Linked DNA regions of Homo sapiens. The protein of the gene in region 1 interacts with the protein of each later gene in a biochemical or structural test. Each region holds a gene or a part of one and is shown in the gene's direction. Other genes may lie near its edges.

The links.
Region 2: the proteins of ARHGAP23 (region 1) and MAP2K2 interact in a test that uses a peptide from one of them, tested with the Homo sapiens proteins (one large-scale study listed by IntAct).
Region 3: the proteins of ARHGAP23 (region 1) and DGKZ interact in a test that uses a peptide from one of them, tested with the Homo sapiens proteins (one large-scale study listed by IntAct).
Region 4: the proteins of ARHGAP23 (region 1) and DGKK interact in a test that uses a peptide from one of them, tested with the Homo sapiens proteins (one large-scale study listed by IntAct).
Region 5: the proteins of ARHGAP23 (region 1) and SLC15A5 interact in a test that uses a peptide from one of them, tested with the Homo sapiens proteins (one large-scale study listed by IntAct).
Region 6: the proteins of ARHGAP23 (region 1) and SLCO1C1 interact in a test that uses a peptide from one of them, tested with the Homo sapiens proteins (one large-scale study listed by IntAct).
Region 7: the proteins of ARHGAP23 (region 1) and DOCK4 interact in a test that uses a peptide from one of them, tested with the Homo sapiens proteins (one large-scale study listed by IntAct).

What each region holds. Positions count from the first base shown.
Region 1 is NC_000017.11:38,426,777-38,431,531, forward strand, and holds the start of ARHGAP23 (rho GTPase-activating protein 23), read left to right. Parts: upstream 1-1,687; 5' UTR 1,688-1,709; coding exon 1,710-1,772; intron 1,773-4,755.
Region 2 is NC_000019.10:4,113,897-4,117,917, reverse strand, and holds part of MAP2K2 (dual specificity mitogen-activated protein kinase kinase 2), read left to right. Parts: intron 1-288; coding exon 289-499; intron 500-4,021. UniProt on the Homo sapiens protein: Catalyzes the concomitant phosphorylation of a threonine and a tyrosine residue in a Thr-Glu-Tyr sequence located in MAP kinases. Activates the ERK1 and ERK2 MAP kinases.
Region 3 is NC_000011.10:46,370,942-46,374,962, forward strand, and holds part of DGKZ (diacylglycerol kinase zeta), read left to right. Parts: intron 1-371; coding exon 372-443; intron 444-545; coding exon 546-662; intron 663-762; coding exon 763-834; intron 835-1,133; coding exon 1,134-1,229; intron 1,230-1,486; coding exon 1,487-1,569; intron 1,570-1,675; coding exon 1,676-1,736; intron 1,737-1,829; coding exon 1,830-1,943; intron 1,944-2,019; coding exon 2,020-2,160; intron 2,161-3,215; coding exon 3,216-3,294; intron 3,295-3,457; coding exon 3,458-3,513; intron 3,514-3,662; coding exon 3,663-3,725; intron 3,726-3,824; coding exon 3,825-3,898; intron 3,899-3,992; coding exon 3,993-4,021. UniProt on the Homo sapiens protein: Diacylglycerol kinase that converts diacylglycerol/DAG into phosphatidic acid/phosphatidate/PA and regulates the respective levels of these two bioactive lipids.
Region 4 is NC_000023.11:50,467,943-50,472,462, reverse strand, and holds the start of DGKK (diacylglycerol kinase kappa), read left to right. Parts: upstream 1-1,637; 5' UTR 1,638-1,784; coding exon 1,785-2,429; intron 2,430-4,520. UniProt on the Homo sapiens protein: Diacylglycerol kinase that converts diacylglycerol/DAG into phosphatidic acid/phosphatidate/PA and regulates the respective levels of these two bioactive lipids.
Region 5 is NC_000012.12:16,218,449-16,222,469, reverse strand, and holds part of SLC15A5 (solute carrier family 15 member 5), read left to right. Parts: intron 1-4,021. UniProt on the Homo sapiens protein: Proton oligopeptide cotransporter.
Region 6 is NC_000012.12:20,747,259-20,751,056, forward strand, and holds part of SLCO1C1 (solute carrier organic anion transporter family member 1C1), read left to right. Parts: intron 1-3,416; coding exon 3,417-3,534; coding exon of another isoform or gene 3,535-3,637; intron 3,638-3,798. UniProt on the Homo sapiens protein: Mediates the Na(+)-independent high affinity transport of organic anions such as the thyroid hormones L-thyroxine (T4), L-thyroxine sulfate (T4S), and 3,3',5'-triiodo-L-thyronine (reverse T3, rT3) at the plasma membrane.
Region 7 is NC_000007.14:112,195,944-112,199,964, reverse strand, and holds part of DOCK4 (dedicator of cytokinesis protein 4), read left to right. Parts: intron 1-4,021. UniProt on the Homo sapiens protein: Functions as a guanine nucleotide exchange factor (GEF) that promotes the exchange of GDP to GTP, converting inactive GDP-bound small GTPases into their active GTP-bound form. Involved in regulation of adherens junction between cells.

The sequences.
Region 1 (4,755 bases):
ACCCCAGTCAGTATCTCATTCCTCAGGTTCACAGGAGTAGGGATGGCCTAATTGTTGTCTGGGGCACCCCAACCCCTCTAAGACCTGAGTTCCCAACCCTGATCAAGGTTAAAGGGGTGGAGGTCTTGGGGCTGCTCGGCTCTCAGGGGTCTCCTTGCCCAAGGAAGGTGGTGACTCCAGCAGGCAGAGCTGGCCTTCCCGCTTTCACTGCCTCCTCTCTCCAAGTCCTATTTTATCCTCCGCCTTCTTTTCTACATAATCTGGGAAAAGGAATATGGAAGCCCCTTAAACTGAAAAAGTCATGGGAAAGAGGTAAGCATAAGCTGGAGGAAGTAAGAAGCAGGAAGAATGGGAGTTAGATAGTAGAAAGAATTTTCTAGCTATTTTCTAATAATGAAGGACAAGGCCAGGCATGGTGGCTCACGCCTATAATCCCAGCACTTTGGGAGGCTGAGGCAGGCGAATATCACTTGAGGTCAGGAGTTTGAGACCAGCCTGGCCATCCTGGTGAAACCTCATCTCTACCAAAGTACAAAAGTTAGGTGGGCGGTGTGGCATGGGCCTGTAGTCCCAGCTACCTGGGGAGGCTGAGGTGGGAGGATCACTTGAACCTGGGGGCAGAGGTTTCAGTGAGCCTAGATTGTGCCACTGTACTCCAGCATGGGTGACAGAGTGAGACCCTGCCGAAAAAAAAAAAAGGAAAAGAAAGACAGAAGGACTGTCCCTCCCTGGACTGTCAGGGGATGGGCTGGAGGGGGTCCTTCTGGGGGACAAGGAAAGAAGCTGGCTCAGGACCAGGGCATCTCTTTAGGCCCAGCTCAGAGTGAAGCCAGGAAGGGTGGCTGTGGGGTGCTGGTGATTGGGAGCCTCTGCTGTCACTGCTGTTCACTGCAGAGCAGGACTGTGGGCTGGCCCCATGGCCTGAGCCCCAGGACTGGCTGGGTGGGGGTCCGAAGGGCTGGGGCACCTGCCAGCCTCTCTTCTATGCTCGACTCCCCCTCCTCTCTGGGATCCTGGGCTGAGACTCTGGCTGGGAGGGGCTTACCCTACACTGAGGGGCACCCCGTCTCCCCACCCCCTGCACTAAATCTTCCCTTGTGTCTCAATGTCTAGGGGTCTCTAAAGGGAAGGGGGCCTCTAAGCCTTTTTCTGTCTTCCCCCCTTTCTGATCCTGGGTCTCCTCATCTTTGTTTCTGACTTTCTCTGCCTCTCTCTGCGCTGTCTCTATCTTGTCTCTGCCTTTCTCATGCTTTCTGGGTCTCTGGATCTCTGTTTCTGACCATCTCTGGCTGGCTGTTTCTCTTTGCTTCCCTCTCCCTCCCTCCCTATCCCCGTGCTAGTTCTGGGTTCGGTGCCCTTGTCCTCTTTCCTGGGCCTGGATGGCCCTCTATCTGGGCCGGTCCCTTAGAGGCCGGGCAAGCGTCTCCTGGAGACCGCCTCTCTTCGCCAGGCTGGGCTCTGACGTCCAGCTCTCAGGCAGCGCTCGCCTCTGCCTCAGCCCGGTTGCAGGTCTGTGGCCCTTGAGCGAGGCCGCCGGGGCACCCAGAAGGGAGCGCGGGGTGGGTGGTGGGAAGGGGGAGGGGCGAGGGGGCGGACCCCGGGGGGGGCCCCCCCACACCGCGCTCGGCCCCGCCCCCGGCCCCGCCCCTCCCGGGTCCCTGCCGGCGCCCCCAGCCGTGCCCCGGCCGCAGAGCCGCCGCTGCCACCCGATGAATGGAGTCGCCTTCTGCCTGGTCGGGATCCCGCCCCGCCCGGAGCCCCGGCCCCCACAGGTGAGGGTGCTGGGCCAGGGAAGTGGGCGGGGCCGGTAGCTGCTGGGGAGCGGGCTGCCAAGCCAGGGTCGCTGCGACCCCGCTCGCCCTGCACAGCCTGGGGCGCACGGTGGGCGCGGGCACCGCGGGCACCGCTGCGGGGAGATTCAGCTGGTGGCAGGCCCGGGAGGGGGCCCGAGCAAGAGCTGTCCGGGGTAGAGGGGTGGGAAGGACGGAAGCAGGCAAGGGGTCGGGACGGGCACGGGGCTGTCAGGACAGGGGGCACAGACCCAGGTGGCGGTGCCAGGCCCCCAGCGGCTGGGCAGCGGGGGCGGGAGGCCCGCGGCTTTTGTTCGGGTTTTTCAGGCGGGGCGCCTGCCGCCGTTTCCTCTGCCCGAGTTTTCGTTTTCCGTTGGCGAGGCCCCGGCACAGCTGGAGGGAGAGGGGGTGGGGGAGGGGGTTCCCGGAGCGGGACGTCCTCCACTAAGGCGTCCGGACACCCCCTCCCCGCGCCACACTCGCCCCCTGCCGGGTCGGACTGCGGGACGGGTTGCCAGGCGCGGTTCCGCCGCCCTCCTGGATCCTGGGGAAGTTCTAGACACAGGCCCAGGACCCCGGGCTCTGCCGGCGAGGCTGCCCTCCCCTCTGCCCTCTCCGACCGGCTGTGGGTGGGTCAGAGCGCGGGGTGCCAGGGGCATTACTCAGCGCTGGGCTGCTCTGCCTGGGTTCTTTCATCTGCCAGCTGCTGAGGCTGGGGAGGGGCCAGCAGGGGCCTCCCAGCCCCATCCCCCCATCAGGGCCATTCCCTTACCTCTGAGCCTGGCTGCCCGCCCTGCAGGAGCCCCCCAGCAGGCCTCCCTGCTCCTAAGTTGAAGGGTTGAACACTGTCAGGCCAACAGTTTCCCTGAGCTCGGAAAAGAAATTCCCCGGGGTCCAGGTTGAGGTCAAGGCCAGGGCTGAGGCCTGTTCCTCTTTAGACAGGGCTGAAAGACTTGGGGACCCTCCTCCCCAGCTTTCCCGGCAGTGTTGAAGGTGGGATCTGGTGCTTGCAACTCTTTTGGAGACTGGTGTGTTCCTTGGTTGCTGGATGTGTGTTCAGTTCTCCCTCAATCTGCATCTCTCCCCGACTCCCTTCAGCCAAAGTGTGTTTCCTAATTATGAACTTGAAATTCAGGATGGACGGGGGGTGGGGGTGGAGGTCATGAATCCAAGCATGAGTCCCTTGGATTCAATCCCCCACCAGCAACACATACTTCATCTCTATCCCCTGCACCCCTCTCTGTCTCCACCCCAACCCTGCGGCCTAGCTGGGGGTGAGTGGCTTTTGATCCCATGTGGTTCTCCCCTCTGCCAGGGCAACAGACCCCATTCCCCAAAGTGACAGCTCTCACTGCCATGTGCTCCTTGGCATGCGATTTGAATCTCGATTATATAACCAGTCATTTCGCCTCCAAAGGCAGCCCAAAGGCCCCCGGCCCCAGCGGCTTCTTCCACTTGCCCACAGTGTGGTTGGGTCCACCCCAAGGTGGCTGGGAATTCCAAGATCCTGCATCTGAGGACCTGACCTCTTCTTGGGAACCATGGGAGCAGTAAATCCTCTACATTCAGTGCTGGATTCAAAGGCCTCAATAATAATAAACAGGAAGAATGGGAGTGGGCAGGGTAGGTGTTGGTGTCCCATTTCACAGAGAGGGTCTGAGCCTATGTAGTGACAGTGCCCAGGCAAGAACCCAGGACACTTGAGGGTAGTCAGGGCACAAGATGAAGCTTGGGGAGGAAAGCTGTTAGGAAGGTGTCTGACTACGGGAATAGGTCAGGCTTGTGTGGATCCCAGCCCAAGCAGAGAAGGACTGGGTGGGGGGAAGAGGCCCTGTGCTTGTGCCCCTCTCCTCGGGCTGACCCTGGCTCACGGGGAAGAAGTGCAGCATTCTTGGCATGGATGGGAGTGGGGGTGAGGGAGGGTGCTGGTTCTGAGCAGAGCAGTGCAGGAGTGGGTAGTGGATTGCTTCATCCTACATTGCAGGGATACTCAGAAGGACTTCTTGATGTGTAAGGTTAAAAGAGAGACTACAAAGCAGCAGCATGGAAGAAGTTACAGTGTGAGGGACTGCAGTTAGATACTCAGGAGAACTTCTAGGGAGGGGCTTGTGACCCACAGCATCCCAGGCTAGCCATGCAGGGAAGTTTCCTCCAGTATAGTGGGTCAAGTGGATTCTTGTGAAGTTGGATTCCAATGTAGAAACCTGGAGATGGTCATTGGAGATATCAAATATTCCAGCAAATATATTCAAATGAGCACTGGTGCCTGGAAACAAAAAATGTGTTTTTAAGAAAGGGGAGTTGCTTTCACAGTATAGCTCATAGTTAATACACAGACAGCAAAAACTCCTGGCCAGTATTTATAAAAACTACCTCATTTGATCCTCACAATACCACTAAGAGGTAGATACCATTATTATCCCCATTTTACAGTTGAGGACACTGAGGCATAGCCAATATTGCAGCCCAAATCACACCCCCAGTGCACTGTGGAGCCAGGGTAGGAATGTGGCAGTCTGGCTCTAGAGTCTGGCTCTCACCCTCACTATCTGGCTTCTCAGGACCTGCTATGTCCCGCTGTCACTCCCACCCCAAATCCGTGTCCATTTTCTACACAGCCCAAGATCAAGGTCAGCTTCTGGCTGGATTGCAGCTTAGTTGCTTGTCTTTTGTTCTATTTCTTTACTCCTCCAATCTTTCCCACCCTGCCCCATGCTAGCCCATAGCACTGGGCCAGGGCTCGGTTCACTGGTGTTTTCCTTCCAAAGGGGCATGAAGCCCTGCTCTGTTGGCTGCAGGGGTTCAAAGGTAAGATATTGGCTTGGTCAGGGATTTGGACAAAGCCTGGTTTTAATGATCCTGCTCTCACCATCTCGGGAGAGAGACATGAATAGGGCCTGTGGGAGCTGGTGCTGCCTTTCCCCTAGCACCCTCCACCCGCTTCAAACAACCCGCCTTCAGATCC
Region 2 (4,021 bases), on another chromosome or scaffold:
CCTGGGTCCTTTGAGCTGCAGCTTATCCTTGAGGTCCTGAGGTCTGCTAGACTTGTTGAGACAGGATCAAGGCAGCGTCCTCAGTTCCCGGGGAGCCGCCCTGGATTCTGGTCATTGGTGTGTCTATGGGGGTACACAGCATGGATCCTTTCCTTCTACACCATGAACCCCTCAAGTGCAGGAATCCAGTCTGTGTCCTCCTGGGGGCCGATGCACCACGGCCACATAGCAAACGGCCAGATGGAGTCTCCCTAGGTAGCTAACCCCTACCCTGGGGGGTCTCTGCAGGGCAAACCTGGTGGACCTGCAGAAGAAGCTGGAGGAGCTGGAACTTGACGAGCAGCAGAAGAAGCGGCTGGAAGCCTTTCTCACCCAGAAAGCCAAGGTCGGCGAACTCAAAGACGATGACTTCGAAAGGATCTCAGAGCTGGGCGCGGGCAACGGCGGGGTGGTCACCAAAGTCCAGCACAGACCCTCGGGCCTCATCATGGCCAGGAAGGTGAGCACTGCGGGGTCGGGGAGGTCGGGGAGTGGTGGGGAAGGTCCCCCTGGAAACAGGAGGCAGGTTGGGAAGGCAGCCGGGTCTCTGCATTCTGATTAGCTCCAGGCTCTGTCCCTCATCCCCACCAGGGACTCTAGGTCCTGAGAAAGGGCCCAGCTTCTGGGCAGATGGGAGCCGTGCCAGCCACACCAGCCACACACAGCTGTGCCCTCCAGTGACTACTTTCTGCCCTGGAGGGCACTTGAAATCCATATTCCCAGAAAGCTAGCACGTGGGGGTTTCAGAAATGCGAGTGTGTTATGGTTCTCCAGAGAAACAAGCGATGAAGACGAAGCGTGTGTGTGTTTGCGCCTATGTGTACAGCCACCTCAGGGCGATGGCTCAGCCAGTGACAGACCGCCTACGCAGCGGTGGCGACGTAAGATGATCAGGCCATGTTTTTGCTGTGCCTTCTGTATGTTTATTTTTATTTTTATTTTTACTTTTTGAGACGGGGTCTTGCTCTGTTGCCCAGGCTGGAGTGCAGTGGCATGATCTTGGCTCACTTCAACCTCCGCCTCCTGGGTTCAAGGATTCTCTTGCCTCAGCCTCCCGAGTAGCTGGGATTACAGGCACACACCACCAGGCCCAGCTCATTTTTTTGTGTTTTTAGTAGAGGCAGGGTTTCGCCATGTTGGCCAGGCTGGTCTGGAACTCTTGACCCCAGGTGATCCGCCTGCCTCGGTTCTCTATATTTAAATAAACAGACAGCAGCTCAGCACTGCGCTGTACAGAGCATGGGAGCCTGGGTGTGGAATGGGCTTTCCAGTGTTTGCACAGTGACGACATCGCCCAGAGAGGGATTTCTCAGTGTATCCCTGTCCTTAATGATACTTGAGTGTATGTGTAGAGAGAGATTTATTCTAAGGAATTGGCTGGAGTGCAGTGGTGCGATCTTGGCTCACTGCAACCTCTACCTCCTGGGTTCAAGGGATTCTCCTGCCTCAGCCTCCCGAGTAGCTGGGATTACAGGTGCATGCCACCACACCCAGTTAATTTTTGTTTTTTTAGTAGAGATGGGGTTCACCGTGTTGGCCAGGCTGGTCTCGAACTCCTGACCTCAAGTGATCCTCTTGCCTCGGCCTCCCAAAGTGCTAGGATTACAGGCATGAGCCACCGCGCCTGGGCAGGCTTTTCCCTGAAGGCCTTCAGCTGATTGGCTGAGACTCACCCACCCTGGGGTGGAGTAATCTGCTTTGCTCAGAGTCTGCCAATTTAAAGGTTAATCACATCTTAAAAACATACCTTCCCAGCAACCTCTAGACTGGCGTTTGACAACTGGGCACCGTGGTCTCACCGAGGAGACACACAAAGCTGACTGTCACCCACCCTTTGAAAGTCTGCAAGCCCTGGTGCTGACGGCCCCCGTGCTTAGTCATCCCGGGCTCCTGGGCCATGATGCAGCCTCTGTGCTCTGTGTTTGAGAATAGTGCCCAGGGGATACAGGGAGGATGTGACCACTTGGGGACAGTGGCTCTTAAACACAGAAGTAGGGGACTTAGTGTTGACAGGGTGTTCAGCTCCTCACCGGTGTTCTTTCAGACCTAGAACGCTGCCTCTTCCTGGAAGCCCACCATCCTGTAGTTCCCCAAACTGGGGGAACGTGACTGCACCTAGTCCCGTGGGTCTGCGCAGGTGGCAGCAGTGCTTGAGGGCCCTGCCTTCCTCGGGAGCAGCGGCTCAACTCCTGCGGGGATTTAGCTCTGCAGCTCTGTCTTCTGGCCTCTAGAGTGCTGCCCTCCCTCCCTCCTGAAGTGTGCAGCCGCGGACTTGCTATTTCTGTCCCCGTACTGCAGGCAGCCTCTTCCAAACCGGAGCAGCCTTGGAAAGCTCAGGTCCGCCTCCGCCCGAAGCACTGGGTGGAAAAAGGCAAGCGTGTGGTTCACACAGCCACAGCAGGGCCTTGAGACAGTGCCAGTCCTCGTGTGTGCCAGGGACCCTCAGGCTTCTGGGGGAGCCTCCAGTGGTCCCTGATGGGCTGGGCAGTGGACATGAACCCAATGCTTGCTGTATCAGCAGCTCCTGCTCCTGCTGACAGGCGCAGGTGAAGCCGGGCCCACCTGCAGCTTTACTGTAGCGGGGAAAGGGAGATCGGGGCCTTTGAACCTGAGGGCAGGCGTGGCTGGGCAGGTTCTGTGGTCTGGTGGGTGGAGATGTCCCAGCATCAGCTCTGGGTGTCAGTACTGTCCTTCCGTCATGTAAGATGTCAGTCATCTTGGGGGAGGCGGGGAAAGGGCGCACGGGACTCTCGTTACTATTTTTGCAACTTCCTGTGCTTCTATAATTCTTTCAAAATTAGGTTTTCTTTAAAGTGCCCGAAAACTCGGGTGGGAGAGGATGCATTGAGCTCGTGGGCTCAGCGGCTCTGGCTGCTATGCAGGTAGGGCTGCAAGGGCTCCTTTCATTTCATCTTATTTATTTACTTATTTTTATTTATTTATTTTTTTGAGACAGAGTCTCGCTCTGTCACCCAGACTGGAGTGCAGTGGCACAATCTCGGCTCACTGCAACCTCCACCTCACAGGTTCAAGCGATTCTCCTCCCTTAGCCTCCTGAGTGGCTGGCATGCCTGGCTAATGTTTGTATTTTTAGTAGAGACGGGGTTTCACCATGTTGGCCAGGCTGGTCTCAAACATCTGACCTCAAGGAATCCATGCATCTTGGCCTCCCAGATTGCTGGGATTACAGGCGTGAGCCACCGCGCCTGGCCCAGTCTCGGTATTTGAGGTCATGCTGGTTTGTAAATGTCTTTTTGGCTTGACCGTGGCCTCTGACCCCTCTCCCATTGGAGCAGCGTCCCCGCGTTACCTGGGCCAGGGAGATAGGTGAAGAACTTGCTGCTTGTTACGCGTGTGGGGCTTCTTTGAATTGTCCATGCTCATAGCAGAGATGAGAGTGTTTGTTCTCGCCTCTGAGTTCCTCCACTCCGCTGTAGCTTACTTCCAGGGTGGCGGTCACACGGCCTGCCCAAGGCCACCTCACAGTACCAGCTGCTGTCTCACAAGTGACGACCTGAGTCGAAGCCGCTGCCAACACCTTTGACGCGTGTTCTCATTAAAATTGAACAGCAGCCTCGTTTTACAGTTGAAGAAACCGAGGCTGTGTGGGGTCAGTGCCTGAATCGGATTCGAACCCTCTTGGATCTGCTCGGACTTGGGAGCAGCTGCCGGGGCTGAGCCTCCAGATCCACTGCACTGCGGTCCCCTAGCTGGCCACCGCTCCCAGCCTGTGTGTTAATTTTTAAAATCTCTTGTAGAGATGAAGGCTTGCTACGCTGCCCAGTGTTGAACTCCTGGCCTGAAGCGATCCTCCCGCCTCAGCCTCCCAAAGCACTGGAATTACAGATGTGAGCCACTGCCCCGGCTCTCTTCCAATTTTTGACAACACCTAATTCAGGATGTTTGGAAGCGCAGTGTGGGCTGCACGTGACTCTTGGCTACATCCAGCTTGGGAGCTGTCAGTTTCTGATCCATGATTTAC
Region 3 (4,021 bases), on another chromosome or scaffold:
GGGCGTAGTGGTGGGCGCCTGTAATCCCGGCCACTCAGGAGGCTGAGACAAGAGAATCGCTTGAACCTGGAAGGTGGAGGTTGCAGTGAGCCAAGATCACGCCACTGCACTCCAGCCTGGGCAACAAGAGCGAGACTCCATCTCCAAACAAAAACAAAAAATGTGTTCAAAGCTGGGCATGGTGGCACATGCCTGTTGTTCCCAGTTACTTGGGGGGGCTGAGGCAGATTGCTTAAGCCCAGGAGTTTGAGACCAGCCTGGGCAACATAGCGAGGCCCTGTCTCTGGGTGGAGAGAGGCTGGCACCAGGAGAGGGGCTGGGTCTGCTGCTCCACGCCTGCCCTGGTTCCCATCCATCCTGTCTACCCTCAGGGATTCCAGCAGAAGTTCACCTTCCACAGCAAGGAGATTGTGGCCATCAGCTGCTCGTGGTGCAAGCAGGCAGTGAGTGGTGCCCCCGCCCCCAGGGCCAGGCCCTGCACTGCTGGGTTTGGGTCCCCGAGTCTGAACACGGTCCCGCTGAGCCCGGCCCCTCGCTCTCCTCAGTACCACAGCAAGGTGTCCTGCTTCATGCTGCAGCAGATCGAGGAGCCGTGCTCGCTGGGGGTCCACGCAGCCGTGGTCATCCCGCCCACCTGGATCCTCCGCGCCCGGAGGCCCCAGGTGAGTACTGCCTGCACCCTTGATGCCCCGTACGCACTTGGGGTCTGCCAGCTACCCCAGCCTGCCCACCTCGTCACCAACACCCCTGCTTCCCTTGCAGAATACTCTGAAAGCAAGCAAGAAGAAGAAGAGGGCATCCTTCAAGAGGAAGTCCAGCAAGAAAGGGCCTGAGGTCAGCCCCAGGCTGGGCAGAGGCTGCAGGGGAGCAGGAGAGAGGGGTCTGTTGCTCAGGGTACAGAACTTCCACCCCCAGCTAATGCTGCCAGCTGGTGGGGGTCTGTGTGGGCTCTGGGGCCTCTGAGGAAGGCAGGATTAGATGCCAGTTTCTGCTCTGTGGCCTGGTAAGATCTGGCCCAGAGATGGTACGTGAGGGTACAAAGAGGGAACAAAGTCACCCAGGGGGCCTGCTAAGGATGATGGTAGGGTGTCCTGGACGGGAAGGAGCTTACAGCCTCTCACCTTGTCTCCCAGGAGGGCCGCTGGAGACCCTTCATCATCAGGCCCACCCCCTCCCCGCTCATGAAGCCCCTGCTGGTGTTTGTGAACCCCAAGAGTGGGGGCAACCAGGTGAACGCGGCCTTGCCTCTCAGCTAAGGGCTCGGGCGGGGGTTGGGGTCCAGCCCGTCTGCCAGCAGCTGTTCCCAGAGCCCGTTTCTGGCTTCTACCCCAATCCCTCTTTCCCAGGGATCCTGAGAAAATCCTGTCCTTTCTCCACCCCTCACCCCTTATTGGCCCTGGTTCCCACAGTCACACCCCTCTCCCTCTGCTGCTCCCACTTCGTCCCACCACTGCCTGACTGTCTCTTGGCTCCCCATCCCATCCAGGGTGCAAAGATCATCCAGTCTTTCCTCTGGTATCTCAATCCCCGACAAGTCTTCGACCTGAGCCAGGGAGGGCCCAAGGAGGCGTAAGTACTTGCCAAGGTTTTGTGGGGGACATGGGGGGGAACTTGCCTCACTCCTGGGGTACAGCACACATCCCCTGACCCCACTGCCATCTTCCCATGAGCCCAGGCTGGAGATGTACCGCAAAGTGCACAACCTGCGGATCCTGGCGTGCGGGGGCGACGGCACGGTGAGCTCCCCGCATGGGCCAGCCGAGCACCAGGGCTGGGCCTGAAGCCGGGGTCCCTGTGGGCCTGATTTGCCTCTGTTCTTCCTCCCCCAGGTGGGCTGGATCCTCTCCACCCTGGACCAGCTACGCCTGAAGCCGCCACCCCCTGTTGCCATCCTGCCCCTGGGTACTGGCAACGACTTGGCCCGAACCCTCAACTGGGGTGGGGTAAGCACCCATAGGAGGGGGGTGCAGCTGGGGCCTCTCCAGCCACAGAGGGCTCAGTCCCTGCCTGCTCCCCCAGGGCTACACAGATGAGCCTGTGTCCAAGATCCTCTCCCACGTGGAGGAGGGGAACGTGGTACAGCTGGACCGCTGGGACCTCCACGCTGAGCCCAACCCCGAGGCAGGGCCTGAGGACCGAGATGAAGGCGCCACCGACCGGGTAAGTTGGCCAGGGTTGGTGGGGGGCAGGGCAGGTGACTGGGGACTGGATCCCACTTTTCCACTTGCTGGTTCTGGGACCTCGGGCGTGTCTCTTCATTTCTCCAACTTCCACTTCTTCCTTGTACGATGGGAATAATAGTACTTGCCTCACAAGATGCTGTTTTTTCTGTGTTTTTTTTTTGTTTTTTTTTTTTTTTTTTTGAGACTGAGTCTCGCTCTGTTACCCAGGCTGGAGTGCAGTGGCGCAATCCCAGCTCACTGCAACCTCCGCCTCCCAGGTTCAAGCGATTCTCCTGCCTCAGCCTCCTGAGTAGCTGGGATTATAGGCAGGTGCCACCACACCTGGCTAATTTTTGTTTTTCTGTTTTCTTTTTTTTTTCTTGTTTTTTTTTTTGTTTTTGTTTTTTGTTTTTTGTGACAGAGTCTCACTGTCACCCAGGCTGGAGTACAGTGGCACAGTCTTGGCTCACTGCAACCTCTGCCTCCCGGGCTCAAGCTATTCTCCTCCGTCAGCCTCCTGAGTAGCTGGGACTACAGGCACCCGCCACCACACCCGGCTAATTTTTGTATTTTTAGTAGAGATGGGGTCTCACCATGTTGGTCAGCCTGGTTTTGAACTCCTGACCTCAGGTGATCCATCTGCCTCGGCCTCCCAAAGCACTGGGATTACAGGCATGAGCCACCACGCCTGGTCAGAAGATGCTGCTTTATTCCATAGACATGCACTGAGCGCCTGCTACCTGCCAGGCACTTCTCTAAGCAGTGAGCAAAACCAAGCCTCGCTGTTGTGCTCCACATGGCATGTCAGGAAGAAGTGTTAGGGGAGCTGACAGGGAAGAGATGCTGCAGGCACGCAGGGAAATCCCCCAGGAGCCACCAGGCAGAGCAGGGCTGTGCCTGACAGCGGGTGAGCTGGGCTGAGCCCTAGCGGACGCTGCTGACCAGGAAAAGCCTGTGAACAGATGGGCTGAGCTGGCTCGGCCACACGAGGCCCCTGGAGCGGGGACATTTGTGAGGCCCAGCCCTCATTTTGGTCCCTTGACCTTTTTCCAGTTGCCCCTGGATGTCTTCAACAACTACTTCAGCCTGGGCTTTGACGCCCACGTCACCCTGGAGTTCCACGAGTCTCGAGGTTGGCAGCCTCCCACTGAGGCCAGGGCAGGGTGGGCACAGGAGTGTCCCCGGGAGGGTCAGACCCTGCTCCCGCCAGTGAAGGCATCCATCCCAGCCCTCCCCCAACCCCACCTGGGCAGGCTGGGGTGACTCACTGGCCCCCACTGCTTGTCTCCACCCAGAGGCCAACCCAGAGAAATTCAACAGCCGCTTTCGGAATAAGATGTTCTACGCCGGGGTGAGTGGGGTCTGCACCCCCGCCTGTGCCCACCTCTTCTACCACCCGTGCCCGTGCCCACCTGTGTCCACCAGGCCCCAGGAGCCCTGCCGGGTGCTGGTGAGGAAAGATCTCTGTCAGCAGATGGTGACGCCCTCTGTCTCCCACAGACAGCTTTCTCTGACTTCCTGATGGGCAGCTCCAAGGACCTGGCCAAGCACATCCGAGTGGTGGTGAGCGGGGCCAGGCTGCCGTGGGTGGGTGGGCCGGAAGGGAGGGAGGCGGAGGCCACCTGGCACATGCACCTCAACACCCTCCCCGCCCGCCTCCAGTGTGATGGAATGGACTTGACTCCCAAGATCCAGGACCTGAAACCCCAGTGTGTTGTTTTCCTGAACATCCCCAGGTGAGGAGGGGGCTACCGGAGCTGGGGGGAGCCCTGCTGTCCTTGTCCTGCAGAGACTGTGTTTTGAGGCCCATGTCATCGCCCGCCTTTGCAGGTACTGTGCGGGCACCATGCCCTGGGGCC
Region 4 (4,520 bases), on another chromosome or scaffold:
CTGCCACGTGAGGGAATTGATAGGGCTCACTTCTCCTGGTCTTCCCATCCCCAGAGTTTAAGGACGGTCCCTGCACTAGCTTAGTAGCTGCCAAGCAGTGTTAACACATCTCTGGAAAGGTGGGCTTAGGCTGTGAGGCTGCAGCGAGGATCTGGGAAATGCAGACCTCACCAGAGATTCTGGTCTTTGGAGGGATTTAGGTGAAACTGTGCTCTTATGGTATTATTTATTGCTGAGACATAGTATAGGCAACAGAAAGATGTTGCAGATTCTAGAAAATTCTGGCTAGGTCAGTGTCCGTTGGCAAAAGAAGAGGGAATAGTGGGGGATATGGTCTGGGAGTAGATGGCTAGAGAAGGGGCTGCAGAAAGAAGGCTGCTACCCACAACTGCAGCATTATGTGTATGGGAGATAAATTCACTTGTCATATTTCAAATCAGGTTTACAGGTATTTCTCCCCCGTCCGCTCCCCCCACCCAGCTGTGGCTTAACAGGTAGTCTTCTCAAATTTTAATTACAATTGGTAATATATTGGCGTCTAAAGTCTAGGTCTGACTAAGATGATGGTTTGTGTGTATGTGTACGTGACTATAACAGAAAGAGCTTCTAAAGTCTTCCGATGTGGTGGGAAAGGTGCTGCGCTAGGCATCAGTCGTTCTCTTCCCAAGAGAATCTCCCATCTCTAATGTCAGACTGCTTCAGGAGGTGAAAAGGGTGTGGGTGTTGCAGTGAATTTCCCCAGCCCAAGACACACACACACACACACACAGACACACACACACACGCGCGCGCGCGCGCGCGTTAACAAGTTTGGGGGGGGCGGAAAAACAAACTCCTGCTGATGGCTGGGAAATCCAGCTAAAAGCACAAGGCAGGCTCCTATAGCATAGGCGAGCCAGACAGACGCCCAGATAGCCTCAGCTCCCGAGCGCGAAGCCCAGCTGCTGCCGGGGCACTCTCGACTTGCTCTCGGGGAGGCTGCAGGCTGCGGAAAGCCGGGGCGCCAGCCTCCCTCATCACACTCCTTTCCCGAATCACCTCAAACTCTGTACCCAACGGCAAAGCTCAGAAATGCAAAAAACCGAAGAGGGTCAAATTGTACTTCAATCCAAAGGAGGCTGAACACCCGCCCCCCCCGCACCCCCCCCCCCCACCACACACACACCATGCCGCTTAATTTCTTTTCCCGGCTTAGATAAAAAGCATTACTTGCCCATCGAGGCTTGGAGATGGGGGGCAAGAGGTTGGTCCGAGGCTAAGCTCACCTGCTGCTGAGGTGAGAGAGCAGACACAGGATGGAAGCTATTCTGACCAGCAGCTAAGTGGTTGGGGGATTGCAAAGACCCTCAACTTCGCCTCTGGCTTTTTTTTTTCATTCGTGTCACTAAAGGGTTAAACACGGCAAGGCTCCAGCCCGCCCCCCAACCTCCACGCCGCTCCACTCCCCCTCCCCTTTTTGTCTCTCCCCTCCCCTCCCGCGCGTCGCTAGGAGGTCATCAAGCGCTCTGCCCAGTCCGCGTTCGCAAGCCCCTCTGCTTCCCGCCCATCGGACCCGTGGCTGCTTACGAAGAGGTGTGCGCACACTGAGGGGCGTGTTCCAGCATAGGGAGACGCTGAGCGCCCACGGGTTAGACCTCAGAGCCAAGCCAGCCATGGAGTGGGATGGGGGAAAGTTTGGCACCCTGCGAGGGGCTGCCGGACTGGAGTGGGCGGGGCGCCCGAGGGTACTTTAGCCTTCCAGGCTTAGGGACTCAGGCTGCCCAGACCTGAAGCGGTGTGCGGCCATGGACCGCGGAGCTGCCGCAGCCCAGGGCACTGCCCCGCCTCAGGATGGAGAGCAGCCCGCTGAGTCTCCAGAGCCTCCGCCGCCTTGGCCGCCGCCGCCACCACCACCGGCTCCGCCGCCGGCTCCGCCGCTGCTCTCCGAGGCTTCGCCAGAACCCATACCAGAGCCCTGTCCAGAGCTTGCTCCAGGTCCCTGTCCAGAGGCGACCTCAGAATCAGCCACAGAACTGTACACAGAACCGACCCCAGAACCAGCCACAGAGCCGGCCTCAGAACCGGCCCCAGAACCTGCCACAGAGCCGGCCCCAGAACCTGCCACAGAGCCGGCCCCAGAACCGGCCCCAGAACCTGCCACAGAGTCTGCCCCAGAGCCGACTCCAGAACCTGCCCTAGAGTCGGTCCCAGAGCCGGCCCCAGAGCTGACTCCAGAAGTTGCCCCAGAGCTGGCCCCAGAGCCGACCCCAGAACCTGTGACAGAGCTGGCCCCAGAGTTCTGCCCTGAGGCGGCTCCAGAGTTCCGTCCAAGTCCAGCACCATGTCTATTGCAATGTCCGGTGGACACTCGAGAGAGAGGTCTAAAGACCTCGCCATCGCCATCGCCATCGCCATCGCCCAGAACGCCAATGTCGTGGTCCAGAATAAAGGTAAGCAAAAGACCCCCTGAAGCGGGGAAAAGAAGCAAGGCGAAGTCAGATGGCTATGGAGCCCGCGGGACTCCGGGTACCCCTTGCATCCCGCTTGTCTGGCACTGGCTGGCCAAGATGCTGAGAAAGATGCAGGGATGGGGAACCCGGGGGAATGGGAAGGGGTTGGGAGGCGGGAAGCAACATGTGGGAATCGAGAATGGGCTGTTTGGGGCTAGAAACGGGGGTGACAGCAGGGGGTGGGAATCGGAGCAGTTTTCCCCTTGAAGAGAAGCGACAGTGCGGTGAGCGCCAATATCTTGAAAGAGAGGAGGAAGATACCCTCGGGGAGCGCAAGAGACCTGGAGAAGTGTTTGGGGCTGGCCCCGAATACATAGCGGACGGATTGAGTGGGGGCGGTGGGACACACCTCTTAGCCGCGGTCACTGCCGCAGAGGCCCAAGCTGCGGAGCCTTCGCCTGCTTGGCCCCCTCCCTGCCACTGGGGAGGGGGCGCCTCAGCTGGGCGCAACTGGCGGCCCTCCAGGGAGGTGCCCGGCGCCTCTGCCGGCTGCTTCGAGCTGGTACTCCTGGTGAGGACGAGGGGATGGGCGGCGCCCACGCGCACTGCAGGGGAAGGGCAGGGTTCTCCGGGAGGAGGGGGAGAGCATGCGTGTGTCGAAGCCACCATTCCATCTGTCTGCAGGATTTCCCAGCAGGTAGGTGCAAACGCAGTGATACAATGTTGCGCAGCGTCACAAACGGGGCAACTGGCATCCCGCACCAGGGCCAATTGGAATGGTACAGGAGTCCTGGTTTAGAGACACGAAAATAGGAGTTGGGATTGCAGAACGTGTGAAGGGGAACCTTCATCTCTACCAGTCTACCGCGACGCCTTCTAAATCGTTACACTTAGCCGGGAAAAGATGAGTGGAGAATCTTCTGGCACTCGCCCAAGGGGAGTAGGGAGGAAAAAGGTTTTCGTGTTTACCTTGGACCCTGAAACCCCGTCTGCTCTTAAGCGGGAGTATGCCTGTCTTTCCTGCTTTCTCTGCACTCTCCCTACTCTTCCTTTACCCTAAACTTCGTTCCACAAAACTGAAAACCAGGATAATGCACACACACACCTCAATTTAGCTTCCCCTGCAGGAAGACATACACACGCGCGCGCATTCACACACACACACACACACACACAAACGAATAACACAACACACGAACAATACCGGTCCATCCTGCTGCCTAGCAGACCATAAGGACACGGCTCAGGAACCCTTCTGCTGTGGACCGCACACTTATAGAATGTAGAATGCGGGAGGGGAGGGGGCAGATTGGCATCACGAAATGGAAGCATTGGTTGCTTCCTGAGTTCTTAGTAGGGAGGCTTGAGTTTGCAAAATATCTGCAATGACGAATAACTGAAAAAGAAGGCTAAAATGAAAAGTTTCACAGAGAAAAGAAAGTGCAGAGGTTTAAAAATAAATAAAACATGACGGTGGGAGACTCTGATAAGTTTTTAAAAATTCAACACCCTAGCTCTCACCAGGGGATGTATCCCTCCCCTTCCTGAAAATACCCTTTCCTGCAGTGATCTTAAGAAGGGCAAAGTTGGGGTGGCTAGATTTGGGAGCTCACCCTCACCGGGTGATTGATCTTGTCTTTTTGGAAGAGTTTGCATTAAGCTGGTGGGAAAGAGACAAGCAGGAATCACCTGACCTGTGGCCATCTTAAGCGAAATTTTGGGAACATGGCTGTGAAACTGACACGTGGGGACGTAATACCCAGAGAATGCATCTCCCCTTTGGCCTCTGAAAGGCTGACTGGCGACCAGGACCCTTCCCCCAGTGAAAAGCATCCCCTGCTCCCATGCGAAAGCATCTCCTACCTGTTTGACAGGAAAATGTCATTGCCAGACAGATGAGGAAGATTAAGGTAAGGGGAATCAGATTAGTTTCCTCTACGTAGTGCCCACTCAGACGTGCTGGCTAGCTGACCCACAGACATCTGGCAACACTGGCAGGAGACCAGGATCCCAGGGGTTTGACTTTGCCCTTAGTAGAGCCAGACATTTGTTGAATCACTTATCTGTAGAATGGGGTTAAGAACCACGACC
Region 5 (4,021 bases), on another chromosome or scaffold:
CTTTATATCACAGCATTGATAGGGTAAGCATCAATGGGAATGAGAGACTACTCCTTGAAAATCAAATGACATAACATATGAAAGGGTATTTCAAACTATAAAATCAAGTATTACCTTTCTGGGAGACAGTACAGCACAGAGGTTAGGCTCTATGGTCTTAAAGTCAGACAGATCTGAATTCAAACCCAGTTCTGTCACTGACTAACTCTGTGACGTTGGGAAAATTATTCCTCATTTCTGGGCTTTTCTCATCATCTATAAAACAGGGAGTTGTTCAAAGGACTAAGTGGAAGATTTTATGTAAAGCAAAAACCGCAGTGCCCCGTATATAGACAGCATTCAATAATTAGCAGTTATAATGTGTTGTTATCATTACTAAAAGTAATGGCAAAAACCACAATTACTTTTTCACCAACCTAATATTATTATCATGTTTCACATGAATTAATAGTGTCAGACTCAGAACAGAAGCACAGGTGTCCTGTTCCCAGCTCTTTCTGCCATAAACCACCTGAACAGCTGGGAGACCTGGAAGCATAAGCAGAACTGTCTCTCACTTGATTCATCCTAGATCCATCTCTTTCCTCTCACCTCTCCCCTCCAATCCAACAGCAAGTCCTCATTTTTACTCTGAAATATAACTTAAATCTGGCCACATCTCACTATCCCCTTTGTTCTCCTGGTGTACAACACCATCATCTCCAGCCCCAATTCGACCAGAGCCTCTGAACTTTTCTCCCTGCTTCCTCTCCTGCCCCATGAGTCCATTCTCTTCAAAACAGTTGTGGTGTTCTTCTCAAAACATAAGTTCTATCATTCCCCTGATTGAAATTCCACAGTAGAGTTTTAGAGATAAATTATTCACAATGGTGAATAATGTTCCACATGATTTGGTCTCCACGTGTTGTTCCACCTACATTTGGTTACAATCTGCCCCTTGACCACATCCCCAGAAATGTGTGTGTTTCTAAGATGCTAGATTTCTGTCTACCCCAAGTCCTTTGTACTTGCTTTATCCTTTATTCAGAATTCCCTTTCCTCTGTTTTCAAATGACTGGCTTCTCATTATTGAGCTTTCTCAAAGGTCTTCTCTTTGGAGGGGCTTCCTTGAGCATTCCATCACTTTCCACTTAATTACCCTGGTTTTTTAAATAGCACTTGTCAGAATCTGAAATTACTTTATTTATATTTGTATTGCCTGCCTCTCACTGTAAGAATATACATTCCTGACATCAAGGTATGTTTCTCCTTTCCGAAAAGTACATATACAAAATAGGTGATCAATAAATACATTTTGATTGAAGAAACAAATGAATGAAGTCTACGGCTATTTCTATATGGTACAATAAAAATGTATTATTCAAACTTTTGACAGTGTCCTACATTGATGGCATTGAGCAAGGAAACACAGTGAATCACTCCATAAATGACAGTAGACATAGCCTACCCTACTAAGACATGTTATACATTGGAGATGAGCTAGAAAAAAAAAAGCAGTAGGAAACTTTTCAAATTATGTTTTAATTGTAGCAGCGTACACCTCAGCTGTCTCATACCCTATGTTTGTTTATTCAAAAAATACTGTGTGGGTGTCTACAGTGTGCCTAATACTGCTCTCGAAGTTTTAGACACATCAGTTAAAAAAAATAAGACAAAAATTTCTGCCATTATAGCTTATAGCATCTCTGTGGTTGAGTAGTGGAGAGTAAGTTGGGAAGATAGAAGGCTCTAATCAGAGAAGGGTGCACAAAATTGTGATTATGGAGTGGGTACAGTTATTGATCCAACACATGGTTTTGCAGGCCAGTCTCTGTTACAATTACTCAACTATGTCATTGTGGTATGAATGCAGCCATAGACAACATATAATAAATGAGCGTGGCTGTGTTCCAATAAAACTTTATTAAAATAGGTGGCAAACTGAATATTACCTGACCATAGCTGGCCAACCACTGGTCTGAGGTACAAGGCATAGGCCATGACCTTGGGTGTGAGTGGAGTGGAAGCTGAGGTAGATTGGAGATCAGACATTGGAGGTCAAGGAACTGGACAACCAAGATTGAAAGGATGGAAGGTGGGAAGGATGATCTACATGTATAGTAAAATTGCCAAGTATTAAGGCAGAAGTAGTACCAGAGAGTGTGACAATGAGAGAGGAACTGACAACTCTGAGAAAAAGAGGAAAATGTCCTATAGATTGGCAGATGACAGCATGAAAGGGAAGTAGATGATATAGTCTGATAACATGAGCTTCAAAGCTGAAGCTTTTTTAGGGTTAAGGGAGATATAATGGTCTAAAAATGGCAACAGGATAAAGTTCCATTTTCTGGGACTGTGGTACTTCTTCTCCACATGTTCAAAATAACTTTTCACCAAACACAATACACACATTTTAACTGTTTAAGAACAACGAGAGTAAAAAATATTTCCAGCAATAAGTCCCCAGTACCAGGTGCCTTAGGAAGGTGGTTATGGCCCTATATTTTGAAGATTCCTCATATGCTGTGATGTGGCATCTTTACAAGCACTAACCAGCTACTACCTGGAGGCACATTTTTAGCGCTCATTGGCAAGAAGACCAGCTTTCACGTACACACTGAATATTTTTTATTGTGTCTTCATAGAAAAACGGGAACTTTACAATAGTGACAGACTTATTGATATTATCTACATTGTAATGGGCTAAAAGAAATATCTCGGAGCCTAAAAAAAATCAAATTGATGATCACTAAAGTTTCAAAAGATCAGAACATGCAAGTAGATGCCTAAAAATGAAGATTCGAGGACTTGAAAAGCTAAGTCCTATAAAAGGGAACTGGAGGTTTTCAAAAACGACTAAAATGACACCAAAGAGAGATTAACCAGCAGGCAGAGAGCTGGCAAAGTGTGTTCATGAATTATATACCGTACCAGAAGTTCTAGCAGGAGAAAAGCATAGGATTAATAATTAACTAGCAGAGTAATAATGGGCTTGTATGTTCTGCTTTTTCTTAGTGAAAGAAATAGGCCTACTTACTCTTTCTGCTCATTGCTTGTCTCCTTGTACTTATGGAAAGGAAAGTTTATAAGCCAAATCCTTTTTATAACTGTGAATCATTTATTCCCAAAGCCTATTCAGGCTTCCTCTCATATTCCCATTTGGACCTTTCTGAAAATACTCCAAGGTTCCTGCTGGTGATTGGTACTACACAAAGAGCTGTGCTACCGTGCCACCAATATTTGAAGCCCTTCTCCACAGTATTTTACCTATCACCATTATTATCTTCATCTCCAATCAGCGTTTGTGGGAAAAGTGCACATTTAGCACTGCCCTTTGTACTAAATAATGTGCTGTTTCTGCTCCAGAGTTTAAAGTCCAGGAAAGATAAACTGATGCCTTTTCCCACCTCTCAGTTCCAGCACTGAGCACTTTCCTGAAGTGCAAAATGGGATTCCTTTAAATCTTTATGGGATAAATAAATCAAGACATGTGCAGGACACACCGAAAGTAAAACAGAAATTTTAAATTAAGGAAGGAGCATTAATACATTTACATCATGTGTTAGTAAGATCATGGAAAAGTTCTGGTAAATGCAGAGTTTTGCTGCAGCAAAGTATTAAAAACAAACAAACAAGCAAACAAAAAACCAGGGGTAAATATTCCCGAGAGGAGCAGGAAGAGATAATAAGATCTCTTACTTCTCATAGAGAAGGAAACTAAATGTTTAGTGTTTACAGTACAGTCATGCAACACGTAACAACATTTTGATCAATGATGGATCACGTATATGACGGCAGTTTCATAAGATTATAGTATCATATTTTACTATACTATTTCTGTGTTTAGATATGTTCAGCTTCACAAATACTTAGCACTGTGCTCTAATTGCCAACAGTATTCAGTACAGTCACACGCTGTACAGATTCGTTGCCTAGGAGTGATGGGCTACCCATATAGCCTAGGTGTGTAGTAGGCTAGACCATATAGGTTTGTATACGTATACTCGATCATGTTTGCACAATGGCAAAATCACCTAATGAC
Region 6 (3,798 bases), on another chromosome or scaffold:
CTCTACTAAAAATACAAAAATTAGCCTGGCATGGTGGTGCATGCTTGTGGTCCCAGATACTCGGGGAGTCTGAGTCACAAGAATTGCTTGAACCCAGGAGGCAGAGGTTGCAGTGAGCCAAGATTGTGCCACTGCACTCCAGCTTGGGTGACAGAGGGAGACTCTGTCTCAAAAAAAAATAGAGTTCAGAATGGGGAGAGAGATGAAACAGCAATGGCAAAACATTAATAATTGTCAAAGCTATGATGGTACATGAGGGTTAATTATATCATTCTGTCTGCTTTTGTGAATTTTTGAAAATGTTCTATTATAATAATCTTAAACCACGTACAGAAAATTGCAAACATTTGAATTTTTTTGGCTTGTCTTCACATCATTAAAGGTAATGTAAAATTGGTTATCACCTGGATTTTTTAAGTGGTAAATCATATATTTGTTTGGTTTTTGAGGCACCAAATAATCCAAATTTAATTCAAAATTTTCTGCTCTTCTTGTTCTTGGGGTTTCAAGCAAAATAGAGGGGATCATTTGTTATTTAAAAATGTAAACATATACAAAGATAGCAAGAACTGTCTTTGTATACAGCAAAGATAGCAATGAACTCCCATTTATCAATTACCCAATTTCAACAATTATCAATACACAGCTCATCTTAGGACATCTGTGTCCCTAACTACTTACCCAACTAGCTTATTTTGAAGTAAGTCTCAGACTACTGTATTTCTTCTATAACATGTTTGGTGTGCTCTTCTAATCAAAACCATAATGACTTGTTTTAATCTGGTGATTCTTGCATCTTAAAAAATAACTTCTTAATATTAGCAAATACCCAATTACTGCTTAAATTCTTTAAATTATCTGATGTTTCCTTACACATGTAGGTTTGAATTAAGAACCAAACAAGGTCCACAATTGCATTAGGTGATATATCTCTAAAATCTTTTTTAATCCATAGGCTTTACTTCCCTCTTTCTCTCCCATTTGTTGCGAAAATTTCAAATCTACCAAAAAATTTAAATTACAATGAATAACTGTATAACTTTTACTGGGATTTATCAACTGTGTCCAAAAACCAGAAATCTCTCTCCTCTGTTTCTCTGAGCATACAAATATTTTGCTGAATCATTTGAAAATAAGTAGTGAACATGCTGACACCTCACTCCCAAAGCCCTCAACTTGTGTTCTTCTACTAGAGCAAATCTATATATAGACTTGTCCTATATAACCACAATACCATTCTCACACTTCAGAAATTCAACATTGATATGCTACTCTATCTAATATAATCCCTCATTCAAATTTCTTTCATTATAACAATAGTGTCTTCTATAGTGTTTTATTTTTTCTTTTGATCCAAGGTCAAAGACCACATATTGCATTTAGTTACCTTTCTTTATCTCCAAAAATTCCTCATTCTTATTTTTTTGTTCTTTTGTGACATTTATATTTTTTTCAAGAGGCAAAGCCAGTTGTTTTGTAAAATATCCCAACTATTGGATGTGTTTGTTTGCTTGTGAGTATGTCCAGGTAAAATATTGTTGGTGGCAATACTACACACGTGATTTGCATGATGCTTAGTAAATCATATCAGGAAGCACATCATTTCAGTTTATACCTCATTGGAATTTTAATTTTGGTCCCTTGGTGAAGGTGGTGTCTACCAGTTTTCTCCATTGAAAAATCCTTCTGCAGTTAATAAGTCACCTATAATTTGACACTTCGAGATTATGTCACCATTCTGTTTCCCAAAAATCTTTCACCCAAAATTTTAGCAGCCATCGATGAGTCTGGATTGAATCAATTATTTACATGAGTATTTGCAAAGTTTAGGTAAACCTTTACATAGAAAATATTTTCAAATATTTTCATTTGTTTTCAAAGAACAAATGGATAATCTCTGAAATTTAGAAGTGTCATAAATATTCTTAGATGACTTTAAAAATTTAGTGAGATTATTTTGTTCAATATAAGCATACAAAGCAATTTTATAACAGAAGAAAACATATACAAAAAAGGTTAAAACTCAAATGCCGGAAACAACCAGACAGTTGATGGAAACGAGTGATGTAGGCAGAGAGAAAGCTGTATGGACTTGTGGTGGACTCCAAGTGTAGGCAGCGGTTGGGGGAGTGAGGCAGCTGCTGCTTAACTCCAGCCAACTATGACCATGGACTGCCAGACAACATGGTTCTTAAGAGAACTCAGAAGTGTGCAAGTTTATATGAAATCTCCTAGGTTTCAGCTATTGGCTACTAACTAAAAAACAAAATCCCAAAGTCTACACAGACTAAATAACCAATGTTAATGAACCACCAATTTAGAACATATAAAATATACACTGAGCTATGAACAACTGCTTAAGATACTTTCGTTAATATTTGCACATGAGAGACACATTTTCTCCCTAAGGAGGGATTAAATTCCTAACATTTTCTGAGAACCTACTAGGGTTTCTGGCATGAATAAGGAGGACATGTTTCCTACCGTGGTGAGCTTACAGTCTAGCAGAGAAGGCAATTCAACAAGCTATTACAGGAGTATTTAAAGTTTGATGAGATGTAAAACAATGAGAATTAATGCAGTTTAGTTTATCAAAATGAACTGAAGGAAAACGTTCAAACTTGGATTTTAAAAGTGAGTGTGTATTAAGAATGTGAATAAGAGAAAATCATTGCTTGGGATAAAGGAAACTACACAAGGCATTCAGACAAGAGGAGAGAACATTTTAGTCACTGAAAGAAATCCAAGAAAATTTGAGTCTGAAATGTAAGACAACAATCTTGCCCAAAGTGAGGCCACAAAAGTAGAAAGACCCAATGTTCAGTTAACTACTCTTCTTTTGGAACAGATGTCTTGGGAAGTCACCTACTTAATTCAGTGATGCAACCTCTGTATGATGTACAGATTTGAGAAGGTTAATGAATGAAGCCAAGGAATCATGAATTGGCTGTTGCTTTAAGTTAGGGTAGAAGGAGTGGCAGTGGGAATGGAAAGAAGAGAAAGTGTTTAAGATATACCTAATAGATAGACTCAGTATGATTCCGGGACAGATTAAATATAGTGATAGCCAGAGAGAGGAGAAAGAAGGATCAATGATAACTCACAAGTCTGCTTTAATGACTGGGCTTCCACTGATAAAGGGACAGGTCTATAGGGGAAGAAGTTGAGCTCATGTTGAGTTTGAAGTGCCTGAGTGACATGCTTCTGGAGATAAATAAATGGCAGTTACTGCATGATTCTGGAGCTTATGAGAAAAGACTGGATTAGAGAGATAGGTTTGGGAGATTTCAGCATGTAATTGATGGCCTTTCATCTCCAAAACAGTAATTAGATTAAAGTAAGTGGTTTCAGATAATCGTTCATAGACAAAAAGATGTGCATATGTTTTTAACAGCAATTATTTGTTTTTCTCACAGCAGGAATCCCAGCTCCAGTGTATTTTGGAGTTTTGATTGATACTTCATGCCTCAAATGGGGATTTAAAAGATGTGGAAGTAGAGGATCATGCAGATTATATGATTCAAATGTCTTCAGGTACCAAATCAAAAGCATTCCCGCATCTCATTGCTACAGCATCCCAGATTTACACAATGCCACTGACACTAACAAGTTTTCATGTCATTTCACTGCTTGTAAGGTAAAGAATAGTCTAATCAAAAAGTGTGATCTGTAGTCATAGAATAATTATATTATTATTTGATTAGATCTTTGATTTTGTCCCTATTCATTACCTTGACCCCCATTTTAAATGAGTAATCATTTTTAAAATATGACAAAAGTGTCCAGAATACAGTAGAA
Region 7 (4,021 bases), on another chromosome or scaffold:
CAAAGTCTGTCTTCTGTAGTATTTCTTATTAAAGATGGAACAAATATTTAAAGCCATCACATGCATTGCGTAAGTTTTCTCTTTTAGTACTTGTATGTCTTCCTACCAGGACCTTTTTGACAAGGATTACATAATGACCAATATTAGACTCTTCTGTATCATGTCCTTTGACAACACTCTCTGGTCACTATAACAGAAGAGTAAAGATAATGGTTTACTGAGGTACTTTGCCAGTTGTAGGTTTACCACTCACTATTCTTTTGTACCTTTTTTTATGTTGCTGATCATTATTAGAAAGACAAGGCAACTTGTATAACTTGTTTTATTAAAAAAGTGAACTATATGCTTATTTGGCTAGAGTATATAAGACAAAAAAATAAGGAATTAAAGTTCCCCAAGCCTAGCTTCATTTAAGCAACTTAAACTTACTTCAGGAACAACTCTTGGACTCTCTGGCATTTAAAAAAAATTGTGCCAAGATGACATTGGGTAACTACTAAGTAAATAAAAATCATCAAAAAAGTGGAATGCCTTTGGTAACGTAACTGCAGTAAAACTGATATGCAGTACCCTGAGGAATGTATGGTAATCATGATCCTTTTGGAAACTTTTATATAACTTTTATTGGAAACTGCAATATAAAATAGCATTTGTGGAGCACTTGCTACATGTCAAGCACAGTTCTAAGAGCTTGTCTTATATTGTCATTTAATCTTCATGATACCTCATGAAGGAGGATTCAGTTATCACTCATATTTCACAGGAAATTGAGTCATACAGGGATTAAGTAACTTATTTAAGGTCATACTGTAAATGGTGGAGCTAGGATTGGAACCTAAATTGTCTTGCATAGAAACTGTTCTCTTAGCCATTACGCCATGTTACCTAGTATGACAGTGGTTAGCAGAAGTTTGAATCAGTAATCCCACCCCTTAAAGTTTATGTGACAAAATAAATCAATAGCAACAAAACACTTTATGCACAGAGTTGTCCCTTGCCGTGTTGTCTGTGAAACAACTTACATGACCATGTAGTCGTTAAATCAGTTTTGGTTATGAGCACGTTGGAGCATCAGACAATCATGAAATGAAATATTTTCATAAACAACACTATTTCAAAAATATATTCCAGGTATCTAGTGTTAAATGACAAAAGAAGAGTAAATATAGACTATGATTAGAGCTACATAAAATGTGTAGCCTATAGAGAAGAGGCAGTCGATGCACAGATGAGAACAATTTTTTTGTTAGAATATATAGATTATCAGTAAGTTCTTTTTTAAAAAATCTGTTTGGAAATATGAGCAGTATTGAATTTTAAATTACACATTGTTATTTATGAAGGAAGAGGTGGCATAAAAATGAGTAAAGAGAGGCACTGCAGTAACTGAGGTGAGAGATAAGTCCATGAATCAGGTTAGCAGTCATTGTCATGGTGAAGTGTGGATAGATCTGAGAGATATTTAGGAAATGAAAGCAACAGGTTTGGTCATCAGATATGAGGAGTTAAAGTAAGGAAGGAGTTTAGGATGTTGTCTTAGCTCAGGATACTATAACAAATATAGACTGGATAGTTTAAACAAAAGAAATTTGTTTCTCACAGTTCCGCAGGCTAGGAAGTCCAAGATCAAGGTGTTGGCTGAGTCAGTTCCTGGTGAGGGCCTTCTTCCTGGTTTGCAGGTGGACATCTTCTTGCTGTATCTTCACGTGGGTAGGGGGAAGGGGTCATGGGGAGGAAAGGAAGCAAGCTTTCTCTCATCTCTTCTTATAAGGTCACGAATCCCATCATGAAGGCTCCCCCTCATGGCCTAATTACCTCCCCAAGTCCCCCATCTCCAAATACCATCACATTGAGGATTACAGTTTCAATATGTGAATTTTGGGGGCATATAAACGTGATTTATAGCAGATGTCTTCCTGTTTTTGGCTTGGGTGCCTGGATGAATACAGGTGCCATTCAACAAAAGAACCAACTTTTTTTTTTTTTTTTTTTTTCTAGGCAGGTCAGGCTTATGTAAGATGAAGATTTTTGTTTGGCCACCTTGAGTTTGAGATACCTGCAATTTTTGAGATACCTGCAAAACATTCAGGTGATGAGGTCTAGTAGAAAGTGAGTCTGCACCAAAAAAGAGAAGTTCTGTGCTGAAGAGTGTGATTAAAGATTATTTGGCTTAGGAGTGAAGGCTGAAGTAATGAGTCTAAATGAGACTTCGCTAATTGCTTTGACTTTGATTATGTATAGTCTGCCTGTTCATTCTAAGTTTTAACATGACAGACCCCAAATTTCAAACAGCAGTCATCTCGAGGCATTTTATTAATATGGGTACAAAGGATTCTCAAGTAAGAAATATTAGCTGTCCATTTAGAGTTGGTCGTAAACTACATTTTACAGTCTTTTCTTGCTTCCCTCTAGGGCGTTGCCTAGCTAAGGCATTAGTTATTTCTATGTCTGTGACAGTCTTCTCCCAAACAAATATTTCATGCCAGATTGTGCACGTTTGTGAGATTTCCCAGTAAGGATGTTGAAAAACAGAGTGCACGAATAATATTTCAATGAACAAGATTTATACATCCCTGAAACAGCATTTAAGAACACGCACCCATCTAAAAATGGAAAAATGCTTCAATATATAAAGCAATAGATTTGTACATACAGTTTTTTTTTTTTTTGGTAAATATATAATACCTCTTAGGAACCACAAGAATTCTTAAAGTTATACTATGGCACTCCTGAAAAATAAGTGACTTAAAGGAAGGAATTCTAGCTTATGATGGCACTAGGTTCCCTTCCCCTCATGTAGGCTCTCCTAACTAATCAGTGAAATAACAATAAATTCACAGAAAGAGGCAAACATTAATAATACTGAAAACTAAGTCTGACAGAACGTCTGTTGGCAAAATTCACGTGAAATTTCCCTAAGGCAGGTGGAACTGGTTGAAGAAAACCAATGTTTTCTTGGTTTTCAGTGGTACGGCGTGGTGATTATAGTTAACAATAATGTATACTTGAAATTTGCTAAGAGAATAGATTTAAGTATTCTCACTACAGGAAAAAAAGGGAACTGTGTGAGGTGCTAGATAGTTAATTAGTTTGATTGTGGTAATCATTTCACAATGTATGTGTGTATATTTAAGGTGATATCAACATCAGTTTGTACAACTTAAATATATACAATTTGTATTAGTTAACAATACCTCAATAAAGCTGGATTAAAAAGAGAAAAAAACCTATTGGTGGCTTCTTTTGGCTTTCCCTTATTAAACAGAGAGGCCTCAATGACTGGAAAGATGACAGGAAGACCCATTGCCCCTTCCCCACTCTCTGTCACCAGCTTAGAGACCAGGTCAATACATCCAACTTGGAGCACGCCATTTACTGCCGGAAGCATCTGTAATCCTTCTCTTTTCACCCCATCTTTTTAATTCTGTTGAGAGATGACCACTCTCAGAAACGAGCAGGACAGGAAGGTGGGTAGGTGGGTGGAAAGGGGTCTATAGAAGATGCCACTTCACCATTGAGAAGTGTACTGTGGTCTTCATAAGGACAGTGATTTTGTAGTTGCTTTGAAAGTATTGCAATAACAAAGCTTACTGGATAGTGTAGTTTTTCTGGCAGGGTATTGGTGACAGAGAAGGAGGTAGGGGGATAAGAGATGATTTCATCTGAATTGCCCTAAAACCGTGGTACATGGTATATAATAACTTACAACTGGGAACCTGGCTTGGAGCTGTACACATCAACTAGCCTTGAACGCAGATCTGAAAGTGGAATTGAACCCATACCTTTATTTTTAGCTCAGTCCTTCGCGTTGTAGAGAGGTTCGAGATCCAGGTTGCCTTAATCAGTGATCACATTTGCATCTCTATGGAAGCGGGAAGGCAACTAAATCTGGACAGGCATCTGTCACTTAGCAATGAACGAAAACATGGCTGTTTCTCAAGAAAACGGGAGAGTGAGGAAGAGGGGAGAGCATGACATTTACATGGGAGGCTTTTGGAAACTACTAACACATGTGTATTTG